Linked DNA regions of Homo sapiens: region 2 is linked to region 1. Evidence: fine-mapped expression QTL. A gene starts in region 1. The other region holds a variant in brackets. All regions are shown on one strand. Distances are between the middles of the regions. Region 1 holds the start of ST8SIA4 (ST8 alpha-N-acetyl-neuraminide alpha-2,8-sialyltransferase 4). Region 2 has its middle 99 kb from the start of FAM174A.

The links. PIP is the estimated chance that this variant, and not a neighbour inherited with it, causes the effect.
Region 2: its variant is the best candidate, but not a certain one, in a credible set for the expression of ST8SIA4 in blood mononuclear cells (TOPMed, PIP 0.70).

Annotation. Positions count from the first base shown.
Region 1 is chr5:100,899,978-100,905,359 of GRCh38, forward strand. ST8SIA4 (ST8 alpha-N-acetyl-neuraminide alpha-2,8-sialyltransferase 4) reads right to left here and starts at 3,305. Exons shown (of 5, transcript NM_005668.6): 1 at 2,866-3,305. The coding sequence starts at 2,978. It overlaps LOC107986437 (a long non-coding RNA gene), which reads left to right and starts at 3,431. Exons shown (of 2, transcript XR_001742825.3): 1 at 3,431-5,382. RefSeq lists enhancers at 428-647, 754-1,255, 2,393-2,962, 3,448-3,687, 4,468-4,707.
Region 2 is chr5:100,631,583-100,636,964 of GRCh38, forward strand. No RefSeq gene overlaps it. Among named protein-coding and RNA genes, the nearest start is that of FAM174A, 99 kb to the left of the region's middle. The variant C/T (reference allele first, on the strand shown) is at 3,053.

The DNA.
Region 1 (5,382 bases):
AAAAAAACATGTCGCAGGTATTCCTTTGGAGATATGAGAATGTGGATGGTTGGTGAGAAGGTTGTGCTGGTTTTCTATTTTTCCATCTGCGTGGTATGACTGCTCAGTATTGTGGCATACTGTAAGAGTAACTATAGATGGGACCCCCATTTGCGGGGGGGAAGGGTCGAAGGGATAAAGGAACTGCCTTGTATTGCAAAATTGGTAGCAGAAAAGCTAAATATGAATCTGGGGTAGTGATGCAAGATTCAAGGACTATGGAAGGCCCTTCTTTGAAACTGCTGCCAAGCCACAAGGCTCGCAGTGCCCCCCAAAGGCCAGAGACTGCCTTGGTTACCTCACTTGAATACTGGACCGGGATCTGGAGCCGAACCTCCATTCCAGTTTACTCAAAACTCAAAACTGGCCTCTCCACGTGGCTTGGGTAGAAAGACAGTCAATGAGATGATTTGATGGTTTTATGAGTCAACTCCTCCACCAGAAGCGCTGTTTGGGAGTTGAAACGAAATAATGAGCTCGGGTCACAAGCTTTTCCACGAACCTTTCATCCTGGAGAAAAAGGAAAGTGCTCAGGGAGCCTAGCTGCCCTCGCATTGTTCCTGGCAGCTCCAACTCCTTGCACAGTCTTGGTCTCTCAGGAGACCAAGGCAGTCAGGACGCTACAGGGCACGGGTGTAAGCGCGACGTTCGCGGCCAGCCCTCTGCCTTGCCCCACTGTAATTGCGGGTTTTGATTAAGAAGGAGGAGCCAGTTGCCGACTGAGCTTTGAAAGTGACTTTGGGTGGGGGGTGGGGGTGGGGTGGGGGTGGAAGGAGGGGAGGGACCAAAAGAGCCTGAGTCCTGCAATAAAGGTTTCCCCCTATCTTCTCACTCATTCTTTCCCCCTCGCCGCCGGCGCTCTGGCAGCAGGGGATAACCCCGGTGCGCGCCTCTCTTCCTGTTTGGTTTACTCAAGCGCCTGCCCCAACGCCTTCTCAGTCAAGCTGGGAGGAAACTGCTTCAGCTTGAAAAGGATGCGGGCAAAAGCCCAGCCCGACTAGCTCAACCGCCGCGCCAGTGCCCGCCTCCTCTTCCTTAACGCCTAGGGCTGCGCCCACCAGCCGGCAACGTCCAGGAAAGGGCCACAGGAGAAATGACACCCGTGCAATGCGGAGTGTCCCGGCTCCGCTTCCCCGCAGGGACTCGAGGTGCGCTCCTTTTCCTGGCCACGGTTTAGGGAGGCTCGGAGATGGACACCTCGGCAGTATCTGGCGACCCTCTTCTCACTCGCTCCGCCCACTCCTGCTCTCCAGGGTCCCAGCCAAGGGCCCGAACCCTCGGAGTCCTAGTGAGCCTTGGCCGCTTTGTCTGGGATCAGGCTTATCCTCCTAGCCCACGGCCCGGGAGGGAACAAAGAGCCTCGACCCTCAAGCTCTAGCCTCTGCCTCTCATCGGAGCCCCATGCGCCCATTCATCACCTTTCTAAAGACCCCTTTGTCTGCCTGGCAAGCACAGGTCTGCAAGGGATGCCCACGCCCCTGCCCAAAGTCCTGCTTTTCTAACAACTGAGCTAGATTGGATTTTCAAGCCACCCAGTCTTGTGTAAACGACCTCATACCGGTCTTTTTTACCCCCTCAGAATAGACCATGTATAGATTCGTTGATGCATGACGACCATTCCAGCCCATTCCTTGCTAGCTTTTTCATTCTCTTCCAGTCCGCTTTGACTGTGCTACTGTTTTCCTGGTTTTCTACAGAATAGCAAGTCCTTCTGTAAGGATCAACCTGCATCTTGCTCGCTTAAATAAATGCTTATTACCTAGGGAGCAGGAATATTAAGAAATGGAGTGCAGGAAGTTTAAGAGCATGTGTGTGTGTTAGCAGTCCCATCTCTCTCTCTCTCACACACACATACACACACACGCAAGGGCTGTTTTCTTTGTTTTAATCAATGTCAGAGAAAAATATAAACTGGGCAGGCATCTCTGCTGGTGTGTAGTTTCTGATAGAGGACGCCTCCAAACCGGAACAGGGAGGATTTCCGAAACAGGACTTTGAATAGAGTTGACAATCAGGTTCACATCCTCAGAAAAAGCCTTCCAAGCTATGTCAGCAACACAAAGTTGCACCACCTCCTGGGTAAACTTCAAAGACACAGAGGCCAGCGGGTGGAAGGAAGTGTGATATTTAGAGAACTTAGTGGGGCGGGGGAGAGTCTGAACTCATCTAGACAAACTAAAAAAAATAGCAGAAATATAGTCTGTGTGAAGCTACAGTACCCAGTTTCTTTCTAAAACTGTAACCATGACGCCCATGCGTTTTAGCCGTAGAAGAACAAATAAGGAAGTATCCTTAGTGGTACTGGAGTTTCTAATTCAAATTATAACACATTAATCTATCCAACGTCAAATAGAAAAAAAAAAAGTAGAGAAACAGAGTATACCTATTTCCTGCTTTCTAAGCTTTAACTTCAGCCCTTCGAGAAACCATCTATCTCCAGTATCTCCTTAGGTGATAGGACATTGAAAACAGGCAACCGTTTGGTGAATAAAGACATTTCTCTTGAGTTCTGCCCACAGATTAAAAGGACAAGGACACACGTTCTTTGTTGACACTTCTGCAGTGACTTCTCCTTTGGCGAGAGAGCACCCAGGGCCAACACAACTGTCACCACAACCACACAGAGCAAGTTGAACTCATACTGGGAACAGCTTAGAGAAGCACGCACATCTCAACAACAGCCTTTGTTATTTAATTCATGACACTAACCACGCGCAAGCTCAAACAAACACACATGCTATCCTAACCATCACTCTACCCTCTATATTCACATTTCATTTATGGCTTGACTTTTTGTCATATCCTGAAATGAAGCTTTGCATTTACCCGATGAGTTGCGTCTCCTGGTGCTCCTCAGTTCTTGCTATTTCTTTTGTCTTATAAAAGATCAGGAGCAGACTTATTGTGCAGATCGTCCACCTCTTCCTAATGGAGCGCATCTTGGGTGCCCGAGAAAGTCCTGGTTGCCCCAGCTCCCGCACCTTCTCTTGATATAAAGGCTCCGTTTTGGGGAGATAGTCGCGGGGGTGAAATCTGTAAAATGCGAGGAGAGCTTGGAGCCGGGATCCCGGGATCAGATCACTGGGGTCTTCTGTGGCCGAGCTCCCTCTGGTCCTCGAACGCTGCCCAGCGACCTCTCGCCCTGTTTGCGCCAGCTCTGCCAGGGTCGCTCCGCGCCGCCTCCCTGGGGCTCAGGTTTCTTTTCAGATGAGACACCTTGTGCATTGGAGGTGGCGGCAGCTTCTGCAGCTGGGTTCGGGGGCGTCACTGGCCCTTCCCTCTTGCTAGGAGATAAACGCTGCGCAAAGCCAATCACCAGGCTGAGGGGGCGGAGGCTGCTTGGAGAGTAACGTCCCCGGCTCTGCCTGCTCTGTGCCGGGAGAGGAAGCTCACAGTGCTACGCGCCTGCGAGCTCGCGCACATACACATATACATACATACACACATACATACATATGCACACACACGTACACGCAGAATCACACACACTCTCCTGGGACATCAAAGCATCAGCTCTCTGGACCTGGGAGCTCCAAGATAGTCTATCCGCATCTAGGTGAGAGGGCACCTCGCCTGGGGACAGATTACAAAAGCGTCCCGCCAGAGGAATGCTTCAGGTAGAGCTAGGGGTGGATTGCAAGAAGAGTACCTTCTTTCAATCGCTTTTGCTAAACACACACCCTCACACGCAAAAACACGCCCTCCAAGGTGGAGTGAAACGGGGTGCGGGGGTGGGGACGGCGGTGGAAGGAAGAAGACTTTTATTACTCAATCTGGAAAGTGCAAATACACACATGAACCTGTTAGCCGATGGGCCCACTCTGCATGGGTGGTGGACGACGACCCTGGCTCAGGATTCTGCAGGAAACAAGTGATGATAGAGGTGTCATTAGGAACTTTATGGATATTTATGCGCCTCCCTTTCATTGCCATTTGGAAACTCCTCACGCAGAAGTCAAGGAAACTCCAATCCCACTTAAACTTCATTGCGGAGAAACAGAGTTCTGAAAAAAAAGCAGCTACCATGGACCTCTCTTTTAAACGCAAGTACACCCACACACATTCGGATACCAAGGAAGGAAGGAAAGAAAGAAAGGAAAGAAAAGGGAGGGGAGGAAGGAAGAGCAAAGTCCTCTCTAAAAGTCTCAATTATATATATAGCCTCTGATTGTCACCTCTCCTCCGTCCCACCATTTTTCGTACTTGTATTGGGTGGCAGGGACACTTTTCAAGAGTTCTGTGTTCGATTGTTCACTCTGAGTACCTCTCCACCATCCTCCAGTCGTTGCCCTCATTGGGAGAGATGCTTGCTACTCTGCTAGTACCACGCCTTGGTTCCGGTCTTTACTGTTGGCTGGTAGGTCGGGAGGCACCTCTAGCATGAGACAGTGTCTGGAAGCCAGGATTTCCCTCATCTATATGCGCCGGTCCCCAGCTCCCTGGTCGCCAGGGTTTCTCTCCAGTTGAATTCCGTGTTCCTTCAGGTTGAACAGTAGCTTCAGCGGTTTTTCACGCTCAGAAATGATGAGGCCCAATTCCAATCTTCCCTCCCGCCGGAAGTAAGAAGGGGAATTCTGAGTTGCTTGTCGCCTGACAGCTTAAAATAGCAACGAAAACAGCCAGCATCTTTGCTTAAAAACCCAAGGTTCCCGCCAGTGTTTACCATACTTCCTCTAGAGTTTAAGAAGTTAAGAACTTCCGAGATCTTGAATTTCCTCTTTGCAGCACAGCGAACGGGGTCGGGTATAAAAATGCTCCAAGGAGCAAGTAATTACGAACGTTTATTGACACTACAAGTGGCCCACAGGGAGCCTTTCGAGTTTATTGATGTCTAGGCAAATCCAGCCTGCATTAATGCATTTCTGTTAGATTGACTTCTGTTAGACTCACTTTTCTTCTGGCAAAAACTGCCAGAATAAAACAGCTTCTTATTTAAGTTAAAAGGGATCCGGGGCTGAGGGCAGGGGTCGGGTGGGAGAGGGATGCATGGTTAGGATGCTAAATTCTCAAGGATAAACTTTGATTTTTAAACAGTAGACAACTATATTTTAGATTATAGGTAAAACATCACTCTCTGTCAGGGATAGAGTAATATGCATCGTTTCATTAAACTCATTATTTCTTAAGCAATGGTTATGGGGCAGGCAATGTGTGCGGAGATGGGAACACAAAGATGAATAAAACTTAGCATCTAGTCAGACACAAATCCTACTCACTCAAAGGGGGCATCTTTTAAAAATAATAATTTACAGTATGGCAACATGAATCAGAAACATCATTTAAAATATATATGGTATCTGAGTAAGCTCCTGGGTTGAAGCAGATGGGGTGTTTAAGCCTTTT
Region 2 (5,382 bases), 270 kb before region 1:
TTGACGCTGGAGAGTGGGAAGGTAATGGTGGGAGGCCAGCAACTTCCATCTGTGCTCTTGCCCTGGGTCTTATAGATATGAAGAGCAGGTTGGTCCATTGTCTCCCTTTTAAAATCAAAGCTTTAATGACCTCAACAAACTATTTAGGTTCTGTCCCTCAGAAAAGAAAAAATCTAATAATGAAAAGATGAGTACAAATTCAGCCTTTCAGCTTCCAGACCTCTAACATCAACTACACACATCTTTTTCTATGTTATCATTACCTCTTTAGCTCAGGAGATTTAAAAAAATCATATGTAAAACTTTCTAAATGTTAGATTATTTCTGGTTAATTTTTGTTCATAGTTTTATGGTATTTTTGTCATGAAATGTAGCTCATGTAATATTTTCTTACCAGAATTTGTTGAGCTTTCCTTTTTGAAATAATACATACCATTTATATAAATATTCATTGGGTGCTGAAAAATATATTAAATATTCATTGATTAAAATTATATTTAATGACTACTTAGATTTTTATATACTACATTTATTAATTTCTGTATCCATTCAATGATTGCAATTGTATATTTTTATGCCACTTAACATGCTGAAAATGTAACACAGTGGAGTACTGAAAAGGATTCAGACACTGCTTTCTTAGTCCCTAGTTTTGAAAAACTCATATTTTAGTGAAGAAAATGATAGTTAATTAAACAAATAAATACAATGGGATGACTGCCTTGATAGCTGCTATGGAAGCACATAACAGAAACAAACGCCCAGGAATGGAGGTCACTGTCTTTATATCTGGAATAAATGTAAAACTAAGAGTTAGCTACACAAAGACAGGGAGTGTTGCTGGAGCGGAGTCCAGCATATGTGAAGCATGGGAGGCCTATAAGATGACATATTTTTGCAGAACTGAAAAAGAGTTAGGATGGACAGTAGTGGTAGAAGTTTGTGAAGTGTATAGTAAAGAATACTCTCAGAGAAATAACATTATATTGGGTTTACTGAGTACTCTTGAATGAATTTTAAATAGGTTGGTGAGATCATCAAACTTATTTATATAAAAGTAACCTAGGTTGTAAGTCAGAAACTAGTTTAGACGAGGCAAAATTAGGAAAAAGCTACAGAAAAAGCATTTGAAAGTCATTATAATAAGGAGAGAGATGAAAGTGGACTGAATGAAGTTATTGACAATGGGAATGGACAAAACAGGACCAAATTGAGTTGGCGACACAAAAGAGAAGTTCATTTAAACTCTGTCTTTTCTAGAATATATGAAACACCACACTGGGGAGTTTCCTGTTAAAGACATGAGGACAGGGGATCCATTGTAATAATTTGTGTTTTTCTGCAGTTTTCTTAAATAACTGTATTTTCTCATAATTTATAACTCTACTATGTGTTGATATCAGATATTACTTTTCACAATAGGTTTCTATTAACTCTCTGAATGACCTCTCCTCTTCAAATTTTGTCATTCTACCTTTAGTTTCCAACATGCTGCTATTGTATCTGAGGAAGACTTGTTAAACAGCACATACACCAGATTATTTATAAAATAAGACAGTCCTATTCATTAGACTGTAGTCCAGAAAATGAGGTTAGTCTTTTTTCTTCTATGAATCTTGCCATGTTCTTCAACCTGTTTGCCCATCAGAATCTTGCTTACTGGTCTGTAGCTATACAGATGTATTTTGAAAATTTGAGGTTGCCAGAAATATGAGCACTAAGTCAGCTTATTATTATATATTATTTATATGTTTAAATTTATTTTTCATATTATATTAGGAAAACCCTTGCATTCAATGTATAACTTTATGTTTGGTAGATAGAATTGAAAAAACCTACATTTTTTGACCAAACTGCATATTAATGAAGAGATAAGAGAGGCATATATGTTTATTTGAATTAGCTATCCATTAATTGTCTCATCTTTACATGAATTCCAAGAATCAAGCAATAAGACAGTTTTATAAAATTGGACTTTCTAATGGTTTTTAAAATGTGAGTATTTTGGTAAGTCTTTAAATTGACTAGCTAGATTGTACTGATTAAAATTGCCATTTCAGTACAATCCTTTTAGGTGATATTTATAGCTATCATGTAATTCCTATCATAAGATTTACCACCATTGTCATATGTTATCATTCAATTAAAAAGCCATATTATGTAAATACTATCCCTACCTTGTTATATTTTTAAATTAGAGTATGGAGATTAGTAACATCTCTCTACTATTTATCTATCTATGTCCTCTAGCAACCTTTTTTTAAAACCTTCCTTCCAGGTCTTGTTTTCCTGCTAAGACTGTTTCTGGTTAGTACAATAAGCAAATCTACTGCAGTAACTTTTTCTGACCCAGGAACTCTGAAGAAATTCATAGAGTTAAACAAATTTTTTTCATGACTTGGGATGCTGAGCAACTATGCTTTTCACAGGGCCTGCCACCCGGATTCTCAAAGGATTATGCCTGCAGAGTTATCAATACAGATTGTCTTTGAACAGAATTGGCTTGGAGAACAGTTCCAAAGTCTCTGCCTCCTGTTTCCTGGTCATTTGACTGCAGGGCATTTATAACCAACCAATGAATCAATTAATTAAATGCTTTCCTCTTTTAGGAAAGAATCTTCATGAGTGTCTATTATATTCTCAAACTCTTAGAGAAGACCATAATACAAGGCTTCTGAAATTCAGGTATATGAGAGTCCAGAGTTCTCTCTGTGTCAGCCACTGTGCTAAGGCCACTTGTAGAGCATGGACACGCAAAACGGCTGATAAACATTTTATCAGTATTCTTACCATAAGAAAATCCATTTTATATTTTAATTGTTTATATTCTGAGATTTCTGGAGTAAGTTATCGAAGGGGAAAATGATTTTTTCACAGATGCATATTTTCCTTTGCAACAATTATAGTTTTAGTTTATCTTTGTTTTCACCTAATTACTGATAGTTGAAAAATATGTCAATATTTGTTGAATTTTCCAAAATACTTTCCTTTTAAAGGGCATAATACACCATTAAAAATGTTTGATAGGAAGGAATATTCAGCTCAATATTAA[C/T]GATGAATAATTGATAGCACAGAGAGATTAATTGCTAATTCGAGGTCACACAGTTGGTCAGTCTTTATTCAGAAAATGAAGTCATTATTTCAAGGCCACAATGATGAGGCTTCATAATTCCCATAATAATTCCAACTTAAGTTTTTATATGTTATCTTCATGAGAAAAGGAGCAAATATTTCCTTGTATGTAACTTTCAAAATAATTTATGAGGCTCTATTATCTTTTGTTCTTTCTAAGTTTATATTTGTCTACTTTTTTACACGTTTAAACATTTTTTTGGGCTCAGCATAAGAAAATACTTTTAGAGATTGAATTATAGAGAAAGTTGCTAAAAATATTCATACTCTATCATGAGACTTTAACATTGTGGTCAAAAACTTAATCTTAAAATTTCAAGCTTATAACATATATACATATGCAAATAAGTAGTCAAGAATAGTTTTTTGAAACGTTTCATCTGACTCACAGGGGCTAACTGAGCTATGAAATGTGAAAATCTGCCAAACATGAAACTGAGAAGAAAACTCAAACATGCCCAGGGCAATAAATAAGATTTATATTTTTTTTGTTTGTTTCTGGTGTGTGTTTGTTTTTATTTCTAGCTGACTAATGTGTATCTTCAGTGATGAATAATATGACAAAATAATCTTTACTGAACTCAACAATCTGAATCTTGAGTAAATTAGACATGAAGAAACTTATGAAAATTTTATGTGATGTGCTAATGGCTTGCTTCTCTTTGGCCCTTTTCTCTGTTTTGTTGTCTAGCAATATTCAAATCCTTGCCCATTAGTTATGGAATTTCTAAGGGTAGGTACTTAGTTTTAATCTAGTTTTTCAATTCCAGGTTCTAACACAGTGTTTGGCTCAAAATAAATACTCAACAAATTGTACAATAATAAAGTAACTTGAAAAGAAAATCACATGAAAACTTGAATGTTCATAAATCTTAAAGAAAAATCACCTAACTTCAGATCTTTTCCTAAGAATCTTCTTCATTCACTTTACCACTCCTATCCTCATCTTAATGGAACAGAAGTGAAAAGGAGGAGGATAAACATTTTAGCTTTTAGCAAATTAAAGGAATCAAAAAATAAGAATATCTTCATAAAATAGAGGTGACATTTTTTAAACGGAGCTTGAAAAATGAATAGAATTTTGACAGCACAGATTGTAGTGCTTAGATTGAAAGGAAAAACGAAGACTTAGTAGCATAAGATTGAATGTGTGAAGCAATGGCAATTGATTTAACTGAAGACCAGGGTAGGTATATGGGAAGACTTGTACAAATTTAGGCCACAACCTTGAAAGCCAGGCAAATAAGTTTACCTTAATTGGTTAGAGATAAAAGTCCATTATGTTTTTAAAGGTCATCTTTTTTTTTTTTTTTCTTATTTTTTTGAGATGGAGTCTTGCTCTTGTGGCCCAGGCTGGAGTGCAATGACTCTATCTCGGCTCACTGCAACCTCCACCTCCTGGGTTCAAGCGATTCTCCTGCCTCAGCCTCCCGAGTAGCTGGGATTACAGGCGCCTGCCACTACGCCCAGCTAATTTTTGTATTTTTAGTAGAGATGAGGTTTCGCCATGTTGGCCAGGCTGGTCTCAAACTCCTGACCTTGTGGTCCGCCCACCTCGGCCTCCTAAAGTGCTGGGATTACAGGCGTGAGCCACTGCACCTGGCCATCTTTTTATATATACTAGTCTCTTTTTATTTGACTGGATTGGATCTTCAGCCTCTATGTAAATAGTATTCTCAACAACAGTAATCCTTTCCCTGTTCACTATTAACCGAGCAGTAAATGATCCTCAGTATTCGATTCTGCCTTTAGACTCTTCTTCTGTTTAAAAAGCAATATTTTTCTGCAGTGCCAGCTACTCAGGAGGCTGAGGTGAGAGGATCACTTGAGCCTAGATGTTCGAGGCTGCAATGAGCCATGATCATTCAGTGAGACCCTCTCTCTAAAAAAATAATTAATTGAATAAACAATGTTTCTGAATATATTATAAAGGAGAAATCATATGTACTCTTGTTGCCCTCTGATTGAACTATTTGCTTCCTCTCTCTCTGGGTGAATACATGTGCTTTTGTTTCACCACCTGACTTCTTAAAAGTCAGAGCAATTTTCATACTTTAAACATTCACATTTAATATAGATAATAAATTAAGAATTTTCTTTACACTTCTCAATATTAAATTTATTTCATCCAGTTATAGAGATTCAGGGACCTAGTATACTGAGATAAGAATTGGTTCCAGTAGTTTTATAGACTTAAGATAATTTTTGGTATGTTATTTTTAATTTTATAGGCTCAAAGAAGCCAAGATC